3 linked regions of the Homo sapiens genome follow. The protein of the gene in region 1 interacts with the protein of each later gene in a biochemical or structural test. Each region holds a gene or a part of one and is shown in the gene's direction. Other genes may lie near its edges.

The links.
Region 2: the proteins of PABPN1 (region 1) and TNPO1 form a complex in vitro, tested with the Homo sapiens proteins (one study listed by BioGRID).
Region 3: of the proteins of PABPN1 (region 1) and CARM1, one has a biochemical effect on the other in vitro, tested with the Homo sapiens proteins (one study listed by BioGRID).

What each region holds. Positions count from the first base shown.
Region 1 is NC_000014.9:23,316,480-23,324,608, forward strand, and holds the start of PABPN1 (polyadenylate-binding protein 2), read left to right. Parts: upstream 1-4,977; 5' UTR 4,978-4,990; coding exon 4,991-5,341; intron 5,342-5,526; exon of another isoform or gene 5,527-5,701; coding exon 5,702-5,816; intron 5,817-6,519; coding exon 6,520-6,587; intron 6,588-6,897; coding exon 6,898-7,004; intron 7,005-7,485; coding exon 7,486-7,573; intron 7,574-7,658; coding exon 7,659-7,810; coding exon of another isoform or gene 7,811-7,820; exon of another isoform or gene 7,821-8,129. Other genes in the region: BCL2L2-PABPN1 protein, read left to right, coding at 5,702-5,816, 6,520-6,587, 6,898-7,004, 7,486-7,573, 7,659-7,810.
Region 2 is NC_000005.10:72,882,082-72,889,822, forward strand, and holds part of TNPO1 (transportin-1), read left to right. Parts: intron 1-385; coding exon 386-446; intron 447-982; coding exon 983-1,151; intron 1,152-4,988; coding exon 4,989-5,141; intron 5,142-5,996; coding exon 5,997-6,222; intron 6,223-7,704; coding exon 7,705-7,741. UniProt on the Homo sapiens protein: Functions in nuclear protein import as nuclear transport receptor. Serves as receptor for nuclear localization signals (NLS) in cargo substrates.
Region 3 is NC_000019.10:10,902,368-10,910,108, forward strand, and holds part of CARM1 (histone-arginine methyltransferase CARM1), read left to right. Parts: intron 1-2,583; coding exon 2,584-2,709; intron 2,710-5,671; coding exon 5,672-5,778; intron 5,779-6,182; exon of another isoform or gene 6,183-6,427; intron 6,428-6,735; coding exon 6,736-6,840; intron 6,841-7,741. UniProt on the Homo sapiens protein: Methylates (mono- and asymmetric dimethylation) the guanidino nitrogens of arginyl residues in several proteins involved in DNA packaging, transcription regulation, pre-mRNA splicing, and mRNA stability.

The sequences.
Region 1 (8,129 bases):
AGTTATCATTTACTGAGCACAGAGTGATAGGCAAAGGGAACACAAATATAAGATGGTTCCCTGTCTTTTACAGTTTATAGACTAATAGGGAAGGATCTTACAAGTCACCATTCAAAAAGCTTTTTTTTTTTTTTGAGACAGTCTCACTCTGCTGCCCAGACTGGAGTGCAGTGGCACGATCTCGGCTCACTGCAACCTCCGCCTCACGGGTTCAAGTCATTCTCGTGCCTCAGCCTGCTGAGTAGCTGGGATTACAGGCGCACGCCACCATGCCCAGCTAATTTTTGTATTTTTAGTAGAGACGGGGTTTCGCCATGTTGGCCAGGCTGGTCTCGAACTCCTGACCTCAGGTGATTTACCCTCCTCGGCCTCCCAAAGTGCTGGGATTACAGGCATGAGTCATCGCACCTGTCCCTCAAATAGCCTTTTAAATATGTTTGCTTTTTTCTTTTTTTGAGACAGGGTCCTACTCTGTTGCTGAGGCTGGAGTATTGTGGCATGATCATAGCTCACTGCAGCCTGGAACCCCTGGGTTCAAGTGATCCTTCTGTCTCAGCGTCTGGATTAGCTGGGACTATGCCACCACACTCAGCTAATGTGTTTGTTTCTTTCATAAGGTAATTATGCCTAGTAGAAGAAGTTTGAAAGTTGGAGTGATTTTTTAAAAATAAATATGTAATGGGCTGGACATGGTGTCTCATGCCTGTAATCCCAACACTTTGGGAGGCTGAGTTGGGCAGATGGCTTGAGCCCCAGGAGTTTGAGACAAGCCTAAGCAACATAGTGAGACCTTGTCTCCACAAAAATAGAAAAAATTAGCTGGGCATAGTGGTGCACACCTGTAGTCCCAGCCACTTCGGAAGCTGAGGAGGGAGGATTGCTTGAGCCAGGAGTTTGAGGGTGTGGTCGGCTGTGATCATGCCACTGTATTCCAGCCTGGGCGACAACGACCCTGTCTCAAACAACAAAGGCAGCAAAATAAACAAGTAAATAAATAAATAATGATTGTGGAAAATTTGTAGAACATAGAAAATTATAAAGAAAATGAATCATAATGCTGTCACCCAGAGACAATTACTATTTTGGTATACTTCTTTCTAGTATTTGTTTGTCTGCTTTTATGATCATGCAATTTTGTATACGCAATTCTGCTTACCATTATATTGCAAGCATTTTTTCTTGATGTTAAAATGTTTCAAAGTCATAATGACTATATACAATTACTTCTACTTGTGTACAGTAATTTTAATGCCCACTTGGTCCTTTATCTGTATTTTTTCACTTTGATAAAAATACTTATTCTGGCTGGGCATTGTGGCTCACGCCTGTAATTCCAGCACTTTGGGAGGCTGAGGCGGGCTGATCACCTGAGTTCAGGAGTTCGAGACCACCGTGGGCAATATGGTAAAACCCCATCTCTACTAAAATACAAAAAATTAGCTGGGCTTGGTGGTGGTGCGCCTGTAGTACCAGATACTTAGGAGGCTGAGGCACAAGAATCGCTTGAGCCCTGGAGGTGGAGGTTGCAGTGAGCTGAGATTACGCCACTGCACTCCAGCTTGGTTGGGCTATGGAGTGAGACTCTGTCTCAAAAAAAACAAAACAAAAACAAACAAACAAAAAATATTTATTCACAAATTGGATTACATTTTTAGAAGAGATAAGAAATAGGATTACTGGGTTAAGAATCTCAACTTTTTTTTTTTTTTTTTGGAGAGAGTCTCCCTCTGTCACCCAGGCTGGAATATAGTGTCGCGATCTTGGCTCACTGCAACCTCCACCTCCCAGGTTCAAGCCTTTCTCCTGCCTCAGCCTCCTGACTAGCTGGGATTACAGGCGCCCACCACCACACCCAGTTAATTTTTGTACTTTTAGTAGAGACAGGGTTTCACCATTTTGGCCAGGCTGGTCTCGAACTCCTGACCTTAGGTGATCCACCTGCCTTGGCCTCCCAAAGTGCTGGGATTACAGGCCGTGAGCCACCTCACCTGGCTCTTTTTTTTTTTTTTTTTTTGAGACAGGGTCTCACTCTGTTGCCAGTCTGAAGTGCACGTAGCACCAATTATGGTTCACTGTAGCCTCAGCCTCCCAAGTAGCTGGGCAGGGACTACAGGCACACGCCACTTTGCCCAGCTAATTTTTGTATTTTTAGTGGAGAATGGGTTTTGCCATATTGCCCAGGCTGGTTTTGAACTCCTGGACTCAAGCAATCTGGCTCCCAAAGTGTTGTGAGCCACTCCGCCTGGCCTTAAGAATCTCACCATTTTAAAAGCTTTTGATATATACTGCCAAAGAATAGAAAGATTGTACTGGTTCTTGCTCCTTTTTTCCTCCCATGCCTAAGTTTTTAAAAAAAATCAGATATAGTTGTAATTATATATTATGTACAATTTTACATTCTTCTTTGGCTTAACAAAATTATTTTCGCATGTTTGTCATACTATGTAACCCTTTTAAGAGATGCATAATAATTTTTTTTGGATATAATTATAGTTTGCTTAAACTTTTGTTTATTGTTGGAATTTAGTCTTGCCATTTTTCACACATAATTTTTATGTATTAAAGCAGGCCTTATAGTAGTAGTGATCTGAGCTTTGAAAGCTGGCTTTGAATTCCCTGCACATTATTATATATATTACATAATATATATTATGTATAATATATATATAATTTTTATTTTTTCCTTTGAGACAGAGTCTTGCTGTTGCCCAGGCGATTCTCCTGCCTCAGCCTCCCGAGCAGCTGGGTTTACAGGCATGTACCACCATGCCCAGCTAATTTTTGTATTTTTAGTAGAGATGGGGTTTCGCCATGTTGGCCAGGCTGGTCTGAAACTCCTGGGCTCAGGTGATCCTCCCGCCACAGCCTCCCAAAGAGCTGGGATAACAGGTGTGAGCCACCACGCCCAGCCAGCCCTGCACACTTCTAATTAGTCCAATGACTTAGGCAAGTTTCTTCATTTCATTAAGCCTTTTTCTTTTTCCCTAAAAAAGGTTATGGTTTTGGAAATACTTTCCCCGTGGGGTTGTTGTGAGAGTCCAGTGAAATAATAAGGAGTGGTGCTTATTACAAAATCAAACGCTCAACAAAAATAGGATTCAAAGCCATTTTTAAAAATCACATTTCCTTTTGTTGGCTTGATTAAATTGGGTACCAATAAGATTAACAAATCTTGATTAGGTTAAGATTAGTATAAAAGACCTTTCTTCCAGGGTATTCAATCATTTAGAGCTTGTCTTCGGTGCTCAACTTTAGTTATCCCAGATCACTGAAGCTGAGATGGCTGATGAAGTAATTTGCAGTGAAATTTTAAGCGACTGTGACTCTGCTGCAAGTTCCCCAGATCTTGAGGTAAGGAATTGTGAGAAAAAGTGGGGGTGAGGGGAATAGTGGGGTATAATGAGTCACTTGATTTTTTGGTTTGCTAATGAGGATCTTCTCTTGTCCAAATCCCTCGGCCAACCATGTTTGTTTAACTTTTTGGTTGGGCTATATGTATCTTTCGAACTGTAGGTTAGTGTGCCCACAAAAATTTCTCTTGCAAACGTACACTGCCATTCCTTTCTTTTTAATAAATGTGTAGGACTGCTACCAAAATATGGCAGTCCTGCCTTCCAGGGCTAGGTCTCATTGGTACTTGGGGTGCAGGGGTGTAGTGGGAACCTGCCAGGAGAAATTCCTCTGGGATCTTGGGGGCTTGAGGGCTTAAATGAAGGGTGGCACCCAAATCCCCAATCAATGCCTGTTCAATCAACAAACATCTAACAGGACATTATGTGGTAGGCATATTGCCAGGCCGTGGAGATGCGAATATAAATAGGAACCGGCCCCTCATCTGCAGGCGCTCACAACCTAGTTAGGAAACAGTAAAACAATTAAGCGCGCCGTGGAGATAGGCCCACTTGTCCTGGGAAATGAGGGGAAGCTGGGGTTTGCAGTGGTTTGATTGAAGGGGGACTACATGTTAGAGGCACAGACTGGGTGCAGGTACACCCAAAGGAACGAGAAGAGTGGAAGGAAACAACATCCACAAAGTAACCACATGCTGGCGTATCGAAGGCCGTGATTTACGGTTTTGAGACTTTACCTCGCCAGCAAAGGGGGGCCAGTCTGTTAGCGGTGCAGATTGGAGGGGTGACATTGGAAGCTGTCCAGGAAAAAGAAAATGGAACTGGGGAGCAGAAGGCCTACGCAAGAGGGCGGGACAGACAGGACTTGTGACTAGTAGCTCTGGACTGAGGAATCCTCCCTGCTTTCTGGTGCGGGAGAGCTAGTGGATGATGGTGCCAATAACCTGGATGGGGAAAGTAAGCTCCCTCCTGGAATGCTTCATTCACAACCTCCATTTTCAGCAACATCCCATCTACTGGTGCTTCCTGGTCGAGATACAAGTTTCCTGAAACTGCTGCTCTGTTTTGGGCCTCACCCGGCCAACAGCTCACTAGCTGGCAAGCAGTAGTATCAAGATGGCGGCCCCCTAGGACTGGCTAGTCATGTGACCTCGGGTTTCCCAAGTTTGAAGCCCGGCAGTCCTTTCGGGGGCAAGGTTCACCTGTCACGAAACGAGTGTCACCCCTTCGACTCTCGCAAGCCAATCGGCATCTGAGACTGGGCCACTGCGGTGAGGCGATCGGAAGATTGGTCCTTTCCAGTCGCCTAGCTAGGGCCAATCACGGAGCGTCCCATACTTCGCGGGCCCGCCCGTAGGCCGGGGAGAAGCAGGAATATCGTCACAGCGTGGCGGTATTATTACCTAAGGACTCGATAGGAGGTGGGACGCGTGTTGATTGACAGGCAGATTTCCCCTACCGGGATTTGAGAATTTGGCGCAGTGCCCCGCCTTAGAGGTGGGGCCTTATTTGATTGCCAAGTAATATTCCCCAATGGAGTACTAGCTCATGGTGACGGGCAGGCAGCTTGACTAATGAGTCCTCGGCGTGGCCGGCGCAGCTCTCCAATCGCCGGGCGGCGGGCCCCAGTCTGAGCGGCGATGGCGGCGGCGGCGGCGGCGGCAGCAGCAGCGGGGGCTGCGGGCGGTCGGGGCTCCGGGCCGGGGCGGCGGCGCCATCTTGTGCCCGGGGCCGGTGGGGAGGCCGGGGAGGGGGCCCCGGGGGGCGCAGGGGACTACGGGAACGGCCTGGAGTCTGAGGAACTGGAGCCTGAGGAGCTGCTGCTGGAGCCCGAGCCGGAGCCCGAGCCCGAAGAGGAGCCGCCCCGGCCCCGCGCCCCCCCGGGAGCTCCGGGCCCTGGGCCTGGTTCGGGAGCCCCCGGCAGCCAAGAGGAGGAGGAGGAGCCGGGACTGGTCGAGGGTGACCCGGGGGACGGCGCCATTGAGGACCCGGTGAGGGAAGGAGGGCGAGCGAGCAGGCCGGCGGCTGGCCGGCCGGGTCACTGGAGGCCCAGAGCTCGGGCGAGCGGGTGGCAGGCGGGGGGTGGGGTTGGGCGGGGAATAACGTGGCTGGGGCCGGGTCGGGCCGGGGATGGGTCAGCGATCACTACAAGGGGCCCGACTGGCTTGATTCGGGCGTCACGGTTGCCTAGTGTTGTTCTAGAGAGGGTAGCTTTTCTTTTATCACGACCCTCGCATGGGGCGAGGGAAATGGCCGAGCATGGCTGAGGCCGCGCTCTGGCCGAGAGCAGGGCACAGCCCCTGCGTTGGTTCCTCTTAAGCTGTCCTCCATACCCTCCCCACTTATATTAGGAGCTGGAAGCTATCAAAGCTCGAGTCAGGGAGATGGAGGAAGAAGCTGAGAAGCTAAAGGAGCTACAGAACGAGGTAGAGAAGCAGATGAATATGAGTCCACCTCCAGGCAATGGTGAGTAACTGGCGGTTGCACGCGGAGCCCGGGTTCTCGGGTTGGAAGGGTTGTGGGGAGGATGGGGAATGTGGGGTTAGATACTCGGCACCCTGGAGCTGCTTGTCTGAGCTATTATGACTGTGCCGCGGTCATAGTCCGTTGTGTGTTCCTCTGACCTTTGTGAGGCAGAACGTATATTTTGGTGGTGGTAGCCTTGTGCCTCCCTTTGTGCCTGTTATAATTGTGTTGCTCTTTGTTCTTAGTCTACGTCTATCTTTCTTTGTAGAGGTTGCGTGCTCGCATTTGACCTTCAAATCTAATAGTTTTTCCTCCAATTGGAGACGCTTTAGGATTCTAAGAGAAAGCAAGCTGCAAGGGGTTTCCCCTTTAATCTAGAAATGTGGAGTCTCAGCCCACTTAATTTTGCTCACTCTTAAAAGCATTTCAACCAAAGCCATTCATTAGGGATTTGATTTGGAGGCAGGAGGGATTCCTATACTGTTTTAAGTGTGTATTAATTCTTTCAATTTATTGAATATTTAGTGAGTACCTGCTATGCACTAGGCACTATTCTCGGTTGTGGGTACAGCAGGGAACAGCACAGACCAAAATCTTTGCCTTCACTGAGCTTATGGGATAGTGCTGGTGGTGGAAGTGCAACATATTGGTCAAGTAGAAAACAAGTGTGTGGTTTTTGTAAAAAATTATTTTTTCCTGATAGCTGGCCCGGTGATCATGTCCATTGAGGAGAAGATGGAGGCTGATGCCCGTTCCATCTATGTTGGCAATGTACGTACTGGGGCTCTGACTGGGGTTGGGGGCAAGTTCTTCTTTTGGGGAATTATTTAATAGTCCTGAAAGGAACATCTCCGGGATAGATGTGGTTTTGGGTGTGGAGGGAGTGTGGGAAGGAGGTTAAAGGTAATGGAATGATCAGTAATCAGCAAAGGCTCTGGGTTTGGAAGGAAAAGAGATTAATTCCTCAAATTACCAGATTTCATGTGCTTTGGTGTATGATGGCCCAGACCAAAGGCTCGGGAGGGTTCCTTTTGAGACAGGAATTTGCCTGGTGCCTGTGAAATTTTTCTCCTCTCATCAGGTGGACTATGGTGCAACAGCAGAAGAGCTGGAAGCTCACTTTCATGGCTGTGGTTCAGTCAACCGTGTTACCATACTGTGTGACAAATTTAGTGGCCATCCCAAAGGGTAAGTAAAGGGGAGTAAGTTGAGATAATTTAAATTACAGTGTACAAATAGATAAATTATGTTTTATATTGAGCAGTAAGTTATTTGGTGTTAACACAGGTGATCTGTGTCATTTAAGATCATGGCATTAATGTTGATATATCAGGAGTTGCACCTAAATGTCTTCAGAGGCCAGATAACAAAAATGAAGGCTAGATGTGGGTGGGATTACGAACTAGAAGGGGAGGGGCAGCTTCTACTTGGCCTATTATGGCCATATGGAAATTCAGGCCCTGTGTGTCTTATTTTTACAAATTTCAAAGAGTAGCTGGAAATTTTAAAATTTAAATGATTTCGAATGATTGAAATTTTCCATTTAGAAGAATTTTGACAAATAAAAAATATAACTGCATTGTAGCCCAAAACGAAGCATGCCTGCAGGTTGAATTTGACCTGTGAGGTATTTGTAACCTCAGAGAGATACAATGACAATTCTTTTCAGGTTTGCGTATATAGAGTTCTCAGACAAAGAGTCAGTGAGGACTTCCTTGGCCTTAGATGAGTCCCTATTTAGAGGAAGGCAAATCAAGGTAAGCCTATGTCCATTGCTGTTCTAGTTGTGTATAAACTCTCCAGGTTGCCTTTAAGGCTATCATTTGTTCATCTCTGACTCAGGTGATCCCAAAACGAACCAACAGACCAGGCATCAGCACAACAGACCGGGGTTTTCCACGAGCCCGCTACCGCGCCCGGACCACCAACTACAACAGCTCCCGCTCTCGATTCTACAGTGGTTTTAACAGCAGGCCCCGGGGTCGCGTCTACAGGTCAGGATAGATGGGCTGCTCCTCTTTCCCCCGCCTCCCGTGAGCCCCGTATGCTTCCTCCTCTCTGGTCTGAGGAACCTCCCTCCCCCCACCCCTCCCCGTGGTCTTCAGGAACTTTGTCTCCTGCCTGTGCAGGTTGAGGAAGGTAGTTGCAGGCCAGGCCAGAAGGCCAGCCTCATCATCTTTTCTGCAGTAGAAATTGGTGATAAGGGCTGCATCCCTCCCTTGGTTCAAAGAGGCTTCCACCCCCAGCCTTTTTTTTCTTGGGAGTTGGTGGCATTTGAAGGTGTTTGCGGACAAAACTGGGAGGAACAGGGCC
Region 2 (7,741 bases), on another chromosome or scaffold:
GATACACCTGGTTCTCCTGCAAAATACCTGTATCTTACAAAATATAGCTCTATGTATTGTAAGTCTTACCTAGTTAAATTATGCTAGCTCTAATGTTTAATTACTACTAATCTTTCTATTTTAGAATTTAGAAGGACTTTGAGCATGAAAGTTTGGCTGGCCCACATTTCTTAAACCTATCCAGGGGATTTTATATTTGACTGCTTCCTTTTCTCTATTAGCGTTTCTTCAGTTAATGAGAGCAGACATATATCACTGAATAAGTTCAAAGACAATATTACCATTGATTATCTCATTGGTTTTATTAGTACATGTAAGGTTAAGACTTATTAATTATTCTCTTGAGATCTTAAGGTCTTTGTTTCATGAATTTCTTTCTTTATAGGTTGATTCCTGTGTTAGTGAATGGCATGAAGTACTCAGACATAGATATTATCCTACTTAAGGTAAGGAAGCTTTTTTGATGAATAGGGAACAAGATTTTTATATTGACTTAGTACATCTTTGGATTTGGCCAATAAAACATTCATTGAGAATAGATCTCCTGTAAATAGACTTCCTATTATCCATAATAGGATAGAAGCATAAGTTTAAGTAATGATAAATTCTTGCTTAATTTGGTACTAGATGGTGACATTGGTAGGGTTATTATTAATTTCCCCTTAATTACTTGGAGTTATTTTAAAAACATTCTTATATATGCTGCTCTGAATTTGATTCAGGTAACTTAGATTATACCAGCCAGTGGAGGCCATGTAGTTGGCTGAAAGGGCCGTATAACCTAACAGGTGTGTTAGGTCAGTCTATTCGCCCCTCCATAAGGAATATGTTCTGTACATGGGCGTGGTTCTTAATCACTCTGGAAGTATATTTCAGAATTCTGTGCATGACCCCATCTCTGGATATTCTGTTTCTCTTACTCATGTACATACTATTAGCCTATAATGAATGCCACCAAAAATTTCTCTTAAAAAAACAACAGGGTGATGTTGAAGAAGACGAAACGATTCCTGATAGTGAACAGGATATACGGCCACGTTTTCACCGATCGAGGACGGTGGCTCAGCAGCATGATGAAGATGGAATTGAAGAGGAAGATGATGATGATGATGAAATTGATGATGATGATACAATTTCTGACTGGAATCTAAGTAAGTCAGAAAGGGAAAAGCACAGTTGCCTACTTTGATGATAACTTTATTGGGGTATAATTCATCTACTGTACAGTTTACTACCCATTAAAGTATACATTTCATTGGTTTTTAGTATATTCAGAGAGCTGTTCAACCATTACCACAATCAGTTGTAGACTATGTTTTCATCACCCATACCCTTTAGCAGTAACTCCCTATTGTTCACTGGCTCTGGGCAACTACTAGTCAATATTCTGTCTCTGGGTTTGCCTATTCTAGACATTTCATGTAAATGGAGTCATACAATGCATTGTCCTTTGTGACCATCTTCTTTAACTTAGCATAAAGTTTTCACGGTTCATTTTGTAGCATTCACTTGTATTGTGAAATAATATTTCATTGTAATATGCCACATATTCTCCATTCATTGGTTGGTGGACATTTGTGTTTCTCTTTTTGTAGCTGTTGAGTTGTGATGCTATAAATACTCATGTATAATTTTTGTGTGTAGACTTTTTTTGTTTGTTTGTTTGTTTTTTTGTTTTGAGGCAGGGTCTCTGTCACCCAGGCTAGCATGATTATGCAGTGGCGCAGTCATGGCCCACCGCAGCCTTGACCTCCCTGGGCTCTGGTGATCCTCCCACCTCAGCTCCCCAAGTAGCTGGGACTACAGGTGCTCACCAATACACCTGGATGAATTTTTGTTTTTTTTTTTTTGGTAGAGACAGTTTTGCCATGTTGCCCAGGCTGGTCTTGAACTGTTGGGCTCAAGCGATCCACCCGCCTTGCCCTCCCAAAGTGCTAGGATTACAGGCGTAAGCCACTGTGTCTGGCCCAATGTGTATTCAGTTCTCTTGGGTAAACACTCAGGAGAAGGATTGTTGGGGTCATATGGTAACTGTATGTTTAACCTTTTGAGAAATAACCAGGATGTTTTCCAAAGTGACTGCACCATTCTGCTTTCCTAGCAGCATTGTCTGGAGGGTTCCAGTTTCTTCACATGCTCACTTGCTTTATTATCTCTTTATTATTATAGTCATTCTAGTGGACGTGAAGTGGTATTTTGTGGTTTTGGTTTGCATTTTCCTGGTGGACCTGCTCTTATTTTATCATTATTATATTCTTAAACTACCATTTCTCAAAAGGCTGTTTGTTTTAATACTGTAAGAACATTGCCACAAGCTTTTTTGGTTTTTCTAACATGAGTGTTTTCTGTCTGGTAATTTGCATGAAAATTGGCTATCATAGGTAATTCTAAAATAATATAAGTTGCTTTATTATATTCAAATTTATTATAAGTTGCTTTGTTATAGTCAAAATTTATGAAATATGCTTCTTAAAATATGTTAATTTCCAACCTTAGCTGCAAATCATATCACCTGTGGAGCTAGCATTCTGGCCCACGCTTCCTAATTGGGGATGAACCTAAACACCTGTGTTCTGATTTTGCTTGCTTGTTTGCTGGATTTTAAACCTCTACTGCTCTAGTTCAGGGTTTCTCAGCCTTGGCACTATTGGCATTTTGGGCCACATAATTCTTTTTTTTTTTCTACATGTGAATGCCACATCATGCATGTAATTCTTTGTTGCGGAGGCTGTCCTGCACGTTGTGGGATGTTAAGCAGCATCCCTGGCCTCTACCCAAAGATGCCAGCAGCACAAACACAGTTGTGACAACCGTTATCTCCTGGGGGAACAAAATCAACCCCAGTTTAGAGCCACTACTCTAGTTCAAAGTGTTGGGATTTCTAATAACTATGATTAAAGCAGTTAAGAACAGACATTATCAGTCTGGGCTGTGTTCTTCATTTGGTTAGATAATGCTAATTTCTCTGTTGCCTCTTCAGTTTCCTGTAACTAACATTCTATTTAGAGTGCCTAATGTGCCAGGCACTAGGCCAAGGACTTTGCATGCATATCAAAGTCTGTTTAATCATAAGTAAGAATAAAGTCATATTTAACATTTCCAACAACCTTGAATAGGCAAGAAAACTGCAGAAAGAGAGATATACCCAAGGTTAGCATAGCTAGTACTGATAGCACATCTAGTACTGGGACCCAAGTCTCACTTGTTAAGACAACACATGGTGTTTACTACTATTACAAATTACTTCCCAGTGTATCCCTACTTTCAGATTAGGGGAGCAGGATGGCTCAAGATCATTACACAGAAAACTCTACAAAATAATATACATACATGGATGGGGGAACACTTCCTCTTCACATCCCATTCTTTGTATCCTTCCAAAAGCTTTTCTGTGCGTGCTTGGGAAAACATACAGGCATCTTTTTTAGAGGAGAAGCCAGTTTTCTAAAAGTGAAATCAGATTATATGTACTCTGCTGCTTTCTTTCTGTGTATCGTATGCCTCATTCTTCCTCAGTACATACAGATTTAGATTTCCTTTTGTTGCATGTCAGTGTACTGTTTAGTTGTATGGCTCTACCATGTGGTATAACTAAGATCCTTATTGATGGGTAAGGTGTTAATTTCTGGCCAATGTAATGGTTTTGTTTTGGTTTGGTTTGGTTTTTTTTTTTTTTTTTGAGGATTTTATTATTGTCTAGTAGTTTGTGATTAGCCATTTACTATGCCTAGTTCACGTTGGAAATTTCTGATATTTTCTTAGTCCATTTTGTACTACTATAACAGGATACCTGAAGTTCAGAATGGAGGGGCTGCATCTGGTGAGAACCTCCTTGCAACATCATCTGATGACAGAAGGACACACTTAAGAGCTCAATTCACGCTTATAATAAGCCAACTCTCTTGATAACTAACCCACTCCTACAGTAACGACATTAACCCATTTATGAGGGCAGAACCCTTAAGACCTAATCATCTCTTGATAGGCCCCACCTCCCATCTTCGTTGCTTTAGGGATTAGGTTTCTAATACATGAACTTCAGGAACACGTTCCTACCCATAACAGTTAAATGATATTTTTGTTGTTCTTTTTGATTTTGTTGCTCTTGTCTAAATTATTATTATAATAAAATCTGGGTTGATTTATAGTCCCATAGTTAATTCTTTGTAAAGAGTATTTTCTAGCATGCGTTATGTTTCATGTGCCAGTGACTTTTCTTCCAGTTTTTGTGTCTAAAGTCCAGCTAAGTAATTGTCTGTTTAATTCTAGATGATATACTGCTGGAAATGTTAAGTAGAGTTAATAATGTATGTTTTTTGCGTGATTGTAACAGTGATTGTAATCATGATTGTAATATGAGTGTATCATATTGAATGGTTATGTTAGAAGCACTGAATTGAGTGGCACAGTATTTGTTTTACTGTATAGACAGAATTCTAGTATGACAGTTATGTACAGAATACAATGTGTTCACAATTAATTTGCCAAGTAAGTTCTTGTCATAAAAAATATTCATCTTAATAGAAAATGTTTTTGGCTGGGCATGGTGGCTCACACCTGTAATCCCAGCACTTTGGGAGGCTGAGGAGGGTGGATCACGAGGTCAGGAGTTTGAGACCATCCTGGCCAACATGGTGAAACCCCGTCTCTCCTAAAAATCAGCTGTGCGTACTGGCACACACCTGTAATCCCAGCTACTCAGGGGGCTAAAGCGGGAGAATCACTTGAACCTGGGAGGCAGAGGTTGCAGTGAGCCAAGATCGCACCACTGCACTCCAGCCTGAGCGACAGAACAAGACTCCATCTCAAAAAAAAAAAAAAAAAAAAAAACCACAAAATGTTTTCACGTGACAAACTACCTCCTATTCAATTGAATTCTTATTTTAAAACTCCGTATTAGAGATACGAATAAAATGTTACATATACAATAAATAATATATAAGTAATAAGAGGTTAATGTAATATTTTTGAATTAAATATTTCCTTAGGAAAATGTTCTGCTGCTGCCCTGGATGTTCTTGCAAATGTGTATCGTGATGAACTGCTGCCACATATTTTGCCCCTTTTGAAAGAATTACTTTTTCATCATGAATGGGTTGTTAAAGAATCAGGCATTTTGGTTTTAGGAGCAATTGCTGAAGGTAAGCCTAAGTCCAGTTTGAATTATGTAAGTTGGCTTCTTACTACTATTAGGTACTAATAAGGCTAGGCTACTTTAAGGAATTTCTATTTTGAACCAGATAACTAGTATTAAACAGCCATAGGCCGTCTTCTAACCCCAGCTAGATATTTTGCAAAATGTTTTTGTTATAATAAAGGTAACAGAGGCCAGGCATGGTGGCTCACGCCTATAATCTCAGCACTTTGGGAGGCTTAGGCGGGTGGATTACCTGAGATGGTTTCAAGACCAGCCTGGTTAACATGGCGAAACCACGTCTGCTAAAAATACAAAAATTAGCTGGGCGTGGTGGCATGTGCCTGTAGTCCCAGCTACTTGGAAGGCTGAGGCAGGAGAATTGCTTGGACCTGGGAAGTGGTAGTTGCAGTGAGCTGAATTCGTGCGATTGCACTCCAGCCTGGGTGACAGAGCAAGACTCCATCTCAATAAAAAATAAAAACAAAAAAATTAAGGGAACAGAATGAAAGGCTCTGATGTCTGAAGCATCCCCATTGCTTTAAAAAAAAATCCTTGATTCTTTAGGTAAGTATAGGAAACACAATAAGGCAAGACTCTCTTCATTCTCTATGAAGGGTTATTATTGATTTTGTCCTGGCAGTAAACATCTATTAGAAGAAATTGAAACACTGTAAGATGCTTGGGAGCAGGTAGCTCTAACTTCAGGGTTTTAAAAATAATTTTGGTATAGGTTATTGTAGTATGTGTATAGCAGTAGAAATATTCTGAATTTTTTCATAGATACGTGTTTTATTTTCATAATCAACCAAAATAATGTTAACTAAATTTTAGCATTTTGAAAGATTTATTTTTTTTCTAGGTTGCATGCAGGGCATGATTCCATACTTGCCTGAGCTTATTCCTCACCTTATTCAGTGCCTCTCTGATAAAAAGGCTCTTGTGCGTTCCATAACATGCTGGACTCTTAGCCGCTATGCACACTGGGTGGTCAGCCAGCCGCCAGACACGTACCTGAAGCCATTAATGACAGAATTGCTAAAGCGCATCCTGGACAGCAACAAGAGAGTACAAGAAGCTGCCTGCAGGTGGGACAGATTCATAACACAGTGTTCTTTGTGGCAGTGAAAAACTTAATTTTCAACCTTCTGATGGAGTGTTGGTGTTAAACCTATAATGAAGTGTTTCGTAATTGAAAATTTTCCAGTTATATCAGAAAGCTTAGTTTTCTTTTTTCTTCTTGGTGAAGTGTTTTGCAGGATCTGTAGCTTTTGGGTTTGCATATTAGCGTATTTTATACATTTTGTTTGGCCAGGAGAATTTTGTCATGTGGGTTTTACCTGATGATTTTGTAGATCTAAATGTGACAACATCGATCTTAGCTGTTTCTTCTTTGGCTCATTTTTCCCACTCAGTGGTTATTATAACAGAACTATCTTACACCCTAATTCCCTCAGACATCTGAACTAGTGATGGCAGGACTCCTACTCTTGAAGGAATAACAACGTTTGAGCAGATTGACATCCTTAGACTACAGGTCAACCACCATAACTCAGAAAGTCCCACAGGGACCTGTGGTCTGTCACTTACCAGTTAAAGGTCTTTGAGTGCTTAGTAGTTCTGCTCTAGTAGCCATTCTATTGGTTGGTTTGGTGGCTGTCTCTTTATATCAAGCCAGCAGTTGCTTTTATTACTACAAATATTCCAGTTTCCTGCAATATACCTTTATATTTTAAAAGGGCCTTCTGCTTATGTTTATAGTTCTTAATTTTTCGAGTAGGTTTGCTTTTACCATTGACCTTGATAGTAGGAAAAAATAACTGTTGAACAAAAAAAAGGAAAATTTTATTTTATTTTTTTTAGATGGAGTCTTGCTCTGTCGCCCAGGCTGGAGTGCAGTGGTGTGATCTTGGCTTACTGTAACCTCCGCCTCTCGGGTTCAAGCAATTCTCCTGCCTCTGCCTCCTGAGTAGCTGGGACTACAGGTGTGCGACACCATGCCCAGCTAATTTTTGTATTTTTAGTAGAGATGGGGTTTTGTCATGTTGGCCAGGCTGGTCTTGAACTCCTGACCTCAAGTGATCCACCCATCTTGGCCTCCCAAAGTGCTGGGATTGCAGGCGTGAGCCACCGCGCCTGGCAGGGATAGTAAATTTGAGTTTGACCTTAATCCATCTGAAGCAGTCATATCTGGAAGATATTAAGGGAGGGAGGATATAGATTATGTTTGAGATCCTATAATTTATTCATTCAGTACCTCGGTTTTTTTTTTTAGCTATTAATTGTTAAGCATATACTAAATGCTGAGTTTACATAAAGTCCCTGCCATCTTGAGACTTACAGGTTAGTAGGAAATACAAAGCAGCAACATAATTATCATTTATGGCAAGTGCTATGGAAGAAATCGGTAAATAATTCACAGTGCTGATGACCAGGGCTTTCATTAACAGATGGCTTAGACCATTTTAGGAAATTCCTGATTGGGTAAAACAGAACATAAACATTTTAGCAATTAAGAGTTAGATATATCTTACAGTCAATAAGTATTCTTTTTTTTTTTTTTTAAACAGTGCCTTTGCTACCCTAGAAGAGGAGGCTTGTACAGAA
Region 3 (7,741 bases), on another chromosome or scaffold:
ACTGCAAGCTCCACCTCCCGGGTTCACACCATTCTCCTGCCTCAGCCTCCTGAGTAGCTGGGACTATAGGCACTTGCCACTATGCCCAGCTAATTTTGTTTTGTTTTGTTTTGTTGTATTTTTAGTAGACACAGGGTTTCACTGTGTTAGCCAGCATGGTCTTGATCTCCTGACCTCGTGATCCACCCATCTTGCCCTCCCAAAGTGCTGGGATTACAGGCGTGAGCCACTGTGCCCAGACTTTTTTTTTTTTTTTTTGAGACATGCTCTTATTCTTGTCACCCAGGCTAGAGTGCAGCGTTGCCATCTCTGCTCACTGCAGTGTCAACTTCCTGGGCTCAGGTGATTCTCCCACCTCAGCCTCCCAAGTAATTGGGACTACAGGCGCATGCCACTACACCGACTAATATTTTTATATTTTTAGTAGAGACGGGATTTCACCATGTTGCCCAGGCTGGTCTCAAACTCCTGGGTTCTAGTAATCTGCCTGACTCCCAAAGTACTGGGATTACAGGTGTCAGCCACCATGCCTGACCCTAAAATAGTTTTTTATATATTCTGGACACTAAATACTTAACAATAGATGATTTGCAAATAGTTCTCCTAAGAGTTTTCTTGTTTTAGCTCTTATATTTAGGTCATTGCTCCATTTGAGTTCTGTTTTGTTTGTATATGGTGTGAGGTAGGGGTTTAACTTCATTCTTTTCTCTGTGGTTATCCAGTTTTCTCAACAGTGTTTGTTGAAGACACTATTCTTTCCCCATTGAATGTTCTTGGCATCCTTATCAAAAATCAATTGAGGATAAGTATAAGGGTTTATTTCTGGACTCTGATTCTGTTCCATTGATCTGTGTCTCCTTTCTTTTGCCAGTACCACTACACTGTTTTCATTACTGTACCTTCGTAGTAAAATTTGAAATTGAGACATGGGAATCCTCCAACTTCATTCTTTTTCAAGACTGTTTTGGCTATTCAGGGTGATTGAGAACACTTTGCCATATTTGCACTCATGTTGTTGTTGTTATGATGGGCTATTCAAAAGCAAGCTACTGACATCATGGGAATTTGCCATAAATACTTCCGCATATGTTTTCTAAGAAAATATGCATTTCTCTACAAAACCACAATACCATTGTCACATCCAAATAACTTAAAATTATGGAATATGTAGTCCACACTCACATTTCCCTAGTTGTCTTTTTTTTTTTTTTTAATAGGATCTCACGTCTGTTGCCTAGACTAGAGTGCAGTGGCACCATCATACCTCACTACAGCCTCAACCTCCTGGGCTCAAGCGATCCTCCCACCTCAGCCTCCCAAGTAGCTAGGACCACAGGTGTGAGCCACTCTGTCCAGCTCCCCAGTTGTCCTTTATTTATTTTTTTGAGACAAGGTCTTGCTCTGTCACCCAGGCTGGAATGCAGTGGCACAGTCATGACTCACTGTAGCCTCAGCCTCCTGAGTCCCTAAGACAACAGGCGCATGCCACCATGCCTGCCTAATTTTTAAATTTTTTTGTAGAGATGGGGTCTTGCTATGCTGCCCAGGCTGATCTCCAGCTCCTGGGTTCAAGTGATCCTCCTGCCTTGGCCTCCCAAAGTGCTGGGATTAGAGGTGTGGGCCCAGCCTCCCCAGTTGTCCTGTATAACTTTTAAAAACATTTTTCGTTTGGCTCCAGCCCAGGGTCCCACTTTGCATTGCATTGGGCACTCCCCTCTTTCTTGTCTCCTGCACTCTGGAATAGCTCCCACCGTTTTGGTCTTTCCTGACATTGGCCTGTTCAAGGAGACCAGGCTGGTTGTCCTGTAGCCTGCCCCACAACTTGTCCTTTTCTGTTGTCCCTTGAAGATGAGACTAGGGCAAACATTTTTGCCAAGAATACTACAGATGATGCACCTGTCCCACTGCAGTATGGCAGGCAGGGGCACAGTGCCTGATTGGGCTGGCCCGTTCCTGGCATCGCTAAGTTTCACCATTTGGCTGGAGTGGAGTGGCTGCAGGTTTGTGGAATGAATGACTGGTAACAGCTATCATGATGGGTACAGGGAGACAGTGTCCTAATTCACTAGACCACTGCCCCGCCATTAGCCCCATCTGATGGTGAGAACCCCAGTTCCAGAGAGGCTGAGGGACATGCCTGTGTCACAGTGAACAAATGGCATGGATGGGGTGTGAACCCAGCGGTCTGACTCCACTGGCCACATGCAGTCACTGCTCTGCGCCCATCCAAGAACAGAAGGGCTCAGCCGAGCAGGGCAGAGGCAGCTCCAGCTCTGAGTTCCTGTGGGCCAGCACCATGCCTTGTGGCCCTGTCTGCCCACCTCAGCCTTCACCATGCCCGTCTCAGCCCTGATCATCCTGAGGACACAGGCTGTGTTCCTGCTGTCTGATCAGTCGCTCCCTTGTCTTCCATGTGGGCTGGGCAGTCAGGGCACCCGGCAATGCTGCCAGGGTGGTTTTGTGGCACTCTGGAAGAATCTGGGGGCACCAAGGGGAGGCAGCAGGAGGGCGACAGGGACCCAGGCTCAAAAGAAGGCAGCTGACAGGGCTGCACCGCTCACGCCAGCCTGTCTTCTCTCGTAGATGAAGATGTGTGTGTCTTTAAGTGCTCAGTGTCCCGAGAGACAGAGTGCAGCCGTGTGGGCAAGCAGTCCTTCATCATCACCCTGGGCTGCAACAGCGTCCTCATCCAGTTCGCCACACCCAACGGTACGTGGCCCTCCTTCCATTCCGGTGACACCAGCCCAAAGCGCCCAGAGCCCTGGTGGGCAGGGGCGTAGAGCCTGGCTGAGGGGTGGCCCGTGCATCCTTAAGAAGGCTCCACTGCCCTCAAAACCACATTCCCACATGCAGGTATGCCCAGAATACACTCTGGCCTGGGCAGACCCTGGATCCCAGACCCTCCCTCACCGGCTCCTCCGGGTCTTTTGGGGCTTGGCTTCTATGTCCCCACCTCCAAGAGGCCCATCCTGACCACCTGGGACCAGTCTTTCTGGCAGTGGCCAGCCCTGGGCCAGCTGTGACTGGGCCAGCTGTGGATGGAGTGAGGCGAGGTCCTAGAGGCAGGAAGAGTTTGCTCAGGGCGCAGAGAAGCCACCAGAAGGGCTTAACCAACCCACCTTGGGGGCACAGGTGGACACAAGATTCCTGACTAGGGGTGGGAGAACCCCAGGTGGATGCAGCCAGGGTAGCAGAGAGGTGTCCAGGAATGCCCAGGGCTGGAGATGGTCTGAAGGTCCCACCGCAGGCTTGGTTACCAGAGACCTGAAGTGAGTCCAGTGGTTGACACAGGTGCTGGTGCGAGGACAGCTGGAGGTGGAGAGGCTGCGTGCCCATGAGCCACTGCCGGCCTCCCCCTTGTCTCAAGGTAGCTGTGCAGTGACCCAGATGTACCTTGGGCAGCCTGAGCCCTCGGGGCCAGCTGTGTGAAGCTGCCATGCCTGGCTAATTTTTTGTAGAGATGGGTTTTCACTGTGTTGCCCAGGCTGGTCTTGAACTCCTGGCCTCAAGTGAGCCACCTGCCTCAGCCTCCCAAAGTGCTGGGATTACAGATGTGAGCCACCGTGCCCGGCCCCTTTTTTTTTTTTTTTTTTTTTTTTGAGAAAGAGTGTCACTCTGTTGCCCAGGCTGGAGTTCAGTGGTGCTATCTTAGCTCACTGCAACCTCCACCTCCCGGGTTCAAGGCGATTCTTATGCCTCAGCCTCCCGCGTAGCTGGGACTACACGTGTGTGCCACCGTGCCTGGCTAATTTTTGTGTTTTTAATATAGTAGACATGGAGTTTTTCATATTGCCCAGGCTGGTCTCAAACTCCTGGCCTCAAGTGATCCACCCGCCTCAGCCTCCCAACGTGCTGGGATTACAGGCATGAGCCACTGCACCCGGCCGTTCCCACTCTTAAGACTATTTGTATTTTAATATTTTTTATTTCAGTTCTGTCAGTTTTTAAAAGTTGTGCTAAAATCTACATAACAAAATGTGATCATTTTAACCCTTTTGAAGTGTGTAGGTTGGTAGCAAGCAGCACATTAACATTGTTGTGCAACTGTCACTACCGCCCATCTCCAGAACTTGCTCATCCCGAACTGTGTCTTTTCATTGTTTTTGAGACGGAGTCTCGCTCTGTCACCCAGGCTGGAGTGCTGGAGTGCAGTGGCGCGATCTCGGCTCACCGCAACCTCCATCTCCCAGGTTCAAGCGATTCTCCTGCCTCAGCGCCCTGAGTAGCCGGGATTACAGGCACGTGCCACTGTACCCAGATAATTTTTTGTATTTTTAGTAGAGACGGGGGTTTCACCATGTTGGCCAGGCTGGTCTTGAACTCCTGACCTCAGGTAATCCGCCTGCCTCCGCCTCCCAAAGTGCTAGGATTACATGCGTGAGCAACCATGCCTGACCGTGTCTTTTAATTTTTAAAGAGATTGTCTTTTAAATATTGTTTTGTTTTTTACTTGATATAATTTAGTGGCTATTATTCTATGTTAATAAATATAGCTTTATTTTATTTTATTTTATTTTATTTTATTTTATTTTATTTTATTTTATTTTATTTTATTTTGAGACAGAGTCTCACTCTGTTGCCCAGGCTGGAGTGCAGTCACACAATCTTGGCTCACTGCAACCTCCACCTCCCGGGTTCAAGTGATTCTCCCACCTCAGCCTCCTGAGTAGCTGGGATTACAGGTGCCCGCCACCACCCCTGGCTAATTTCTGTATTTTTAATAGAGACAGGGTTTCACCATGTTGGCCAGGCTGGTCTCGAACTCCTGACCTCAAGTGATCCACTCGCCTCAGCCTCCCAAAGTGCTAGGATTACAGGCATAAGCCACCGTGCCCGGCTTATTATTTCTTGTAGAGACAGGGTCTTGCTATGTTGCCCAGGCTGGCCTCTTAAACTGGGCTCAAGCAGTCCACCCGCCTCAGCCTCCCAATGTGCTGGGATTACAGTTGAGAACCACTGTCCCCAGCCAAATAGATAGAGCCTGCTTTAAAGGGCCACATACCATTGCATCTCTGGGAAGGGTGGTGATTGGTGATTCTCTGCCATGCTTTTCTTAATTTTTTATTTCATGTTTTTGTTTTTGTTTTTTAACGAGGCAGGGTCTTGTTATGTTGCTCAGGCTGGTCTGGAACTCCTGACAGCTGATCTGCCCACCTCAGCCTCCCACCTCAGCCTCCCAAAGTGCTGGGATTACAGGCATGAGCCACTGCACCTGGCCTCTACTGTGCTTTTCTGTGCCCCTGGCATTTGTCCAGTCCCCTCTTACTGGACATTGCAGTGTCTGCTGCCCCCACACAGATGCTGCCCTGAGCTTCTGGGTGGACTTGGGCTTATTTGCCAGAGCTTTGACTCCTGGGCCGGTGGGCGTGTGCTTGAGAGAGCTTCACCAAGCTGCCCTTTGGTGAGGAATCCCCAGGCCCACTCCCACCAGACAGCAGCCCCACATGCAGGCTACCTGCCCTCTTCTCATGTCAGTCACCACAGTGCAGGCATGGCTGCCCTTCATCTTTTCTTTGAACTTTGAAAATTGTTTTTCGGGGAAGAGAAATCACCAGCCCTGTATGTTCAAGGGAGAAACGTCAGGACATACGGCCATCCAGAACCTTCCCTCCCAGATGGCCACATGCTGGGTTGCTGACCGCCCCCCGGTGACTTGGCTTCCCTGTTCCAGATTTCTGTTCCTTCTACAACATCCTGAAAACCTGCCGGGGCCACACCCTGGAGCGGTCTGTGTTCAGCGAGCGGACGGAGGAGTCTTCTGCCGTGCAGTACTTCCAGGTGGGTTGTACTCCCCCTCAGCCAGGCCGCCTCCCCCCGGCAGCCCCCCTGCCACTCACCCGCAGGAGGCCACACAGCACAGGGAAGGCCCACCCAAGTTCCCGTCCTGGCTCTGTCCCTTACTGGCCATGTAGCCTTGGGCAGGTTTCCTCTGCTGGCTGGGCCTCAGTTTCCTCATCTGTGAAGCGGAGATGCAGGTGCCTGCCTGAGAGGGTTGCTGGAAGGATCTGAGCACAGGTGGAGCTCAGGGCCACAGGCGTTGTGAATAACGGTAGAGCAGTTACAATGCCCTGAGCGCTCCCTGCATGCCAGGCCCTGGTCTAAGCGCTGTCACATGCACAGAAGCACTTGGACCCTCCCAACAACGCTAGGAGGTAAGTGCTATTATTGTCCCCATTTTACAGATGAGAAAACTGAGGCTCAGAGAGGTTAAGTGACTTGCTCCAAGTCACACAGCTATATGCAACAGAGCCAAGATGGGAAGCCAGGTCTGCCTGATGCCAAAGTCTGTGCCCCTGCCCAGGTGCCACGCTGCCTCCCGATCGCCCGTTGTCTTACAGAGAGACACCACACCTCACCTGCCTGGCGCTCTGAGTTCTAGGGCTCTGTTCGATCTGCTTCTCTTCTTCTTTGGGGCCCTCAAGATGAGGCAGGTGGCCCCCGATGCCAGAACCCTGCCTGTGGCAAATCTTGAGTTCTCCTGGGCGGCTTCCAGGTCCAGGCGGCATCAGCTGTTGCCATCGGCTGCAGTGATAGTGGCGGTGTCCTCCTGGGGGCTGCCCTCCGGCTTCCTGCTCCCTCTCCTGGAGCTGCTAGTGGGGCCCAGGCAGAGGGTGCACGACCTCCCGAGGGAGGTTTGTGCCCTAGATGGCCCCTTGCTCTATCACAGGGCTGGCCAGGGCCTTGGCTGCCTCGTGCCACCATGTGCCCCGTGCCATCGGTATGTCTCTGTTCCAGTTTTATGGCTACCTGTCCCAGCAGCAGAACATGATGCAGGACTACGTGCGGACAGGCACCTACCAGCGCGCCATCCTGCAAAACCACACCGACTTCAAGGACAAGGTGAGTGGCCCGCGCATGTGCCCACCTCTCTGCTTCTGTCTCGGTTTTTTTTTTCTTTGCTCATTGATTTTATCTTTAATTTTCTCAGATTAGAAATGCATTTATCTCAGTTACTGCAGAGGCTGAGGCAGGAGGATCGCTTCAGTCCATGAGTTTGAGGCTGCAGTAAGCTATGATTCTGCCACTGCACTCCAGCCTGGGCGACAGAGCGAGACTCTTGTCTCTTAAAAAAAAACAAATAAACAAGGCCAGGCGCGGTGGCTCACGCCTGTAATCCCAGCACTTTGGGACGCCCAGGCGGGCGGGTCACAAGGTCAGGAGATCGAGACCATCCTGGCTAACACGATGAAACCCCGTCTCTACTAAAAAATACAAAAAAATTAGTTGGGCGTGGTGGTGGGCGCCTGTAGTCCCAGCTACTCAGGAGGCTGAGGCAGGTGAATGGCATGAACGCAGGAGGCAGAGCTTGCAGTGAGCTGAGATCGCGCCACTGCACTGCAGCCTGGGCAACAGAGTGAGACTCCATCTCAAAAAACAAACAAACAAACAAAAAAAACAAAAAGCAAGAAAAACAAATGCATTTGATATATAAACTCAACACAGCATGTACATTATAGGCTTGAGAGGCCTCTATCAGTTCCCTCCAAGATAGCCGCTACCCCTCAGTATGAGGTCTCTTCTTCAAGATTTTTCCCCATACAGACATCAGCGTATATTTTACAATTATTTTATTGAGCTGGGCAGAGTAGCTCACACCTGTCTGTAATCCCAGCACTTTGGGAGGCCAAGGCAGGGGGATCATTTGAGCCCAGGAAGTTGAAACTGCGGTGAGCTGTGATTGGGGTACTGCTCTCCAGGCTGAGCCAAAGTGCGAGACCCTGCCTCAAAAACAAAATAAATA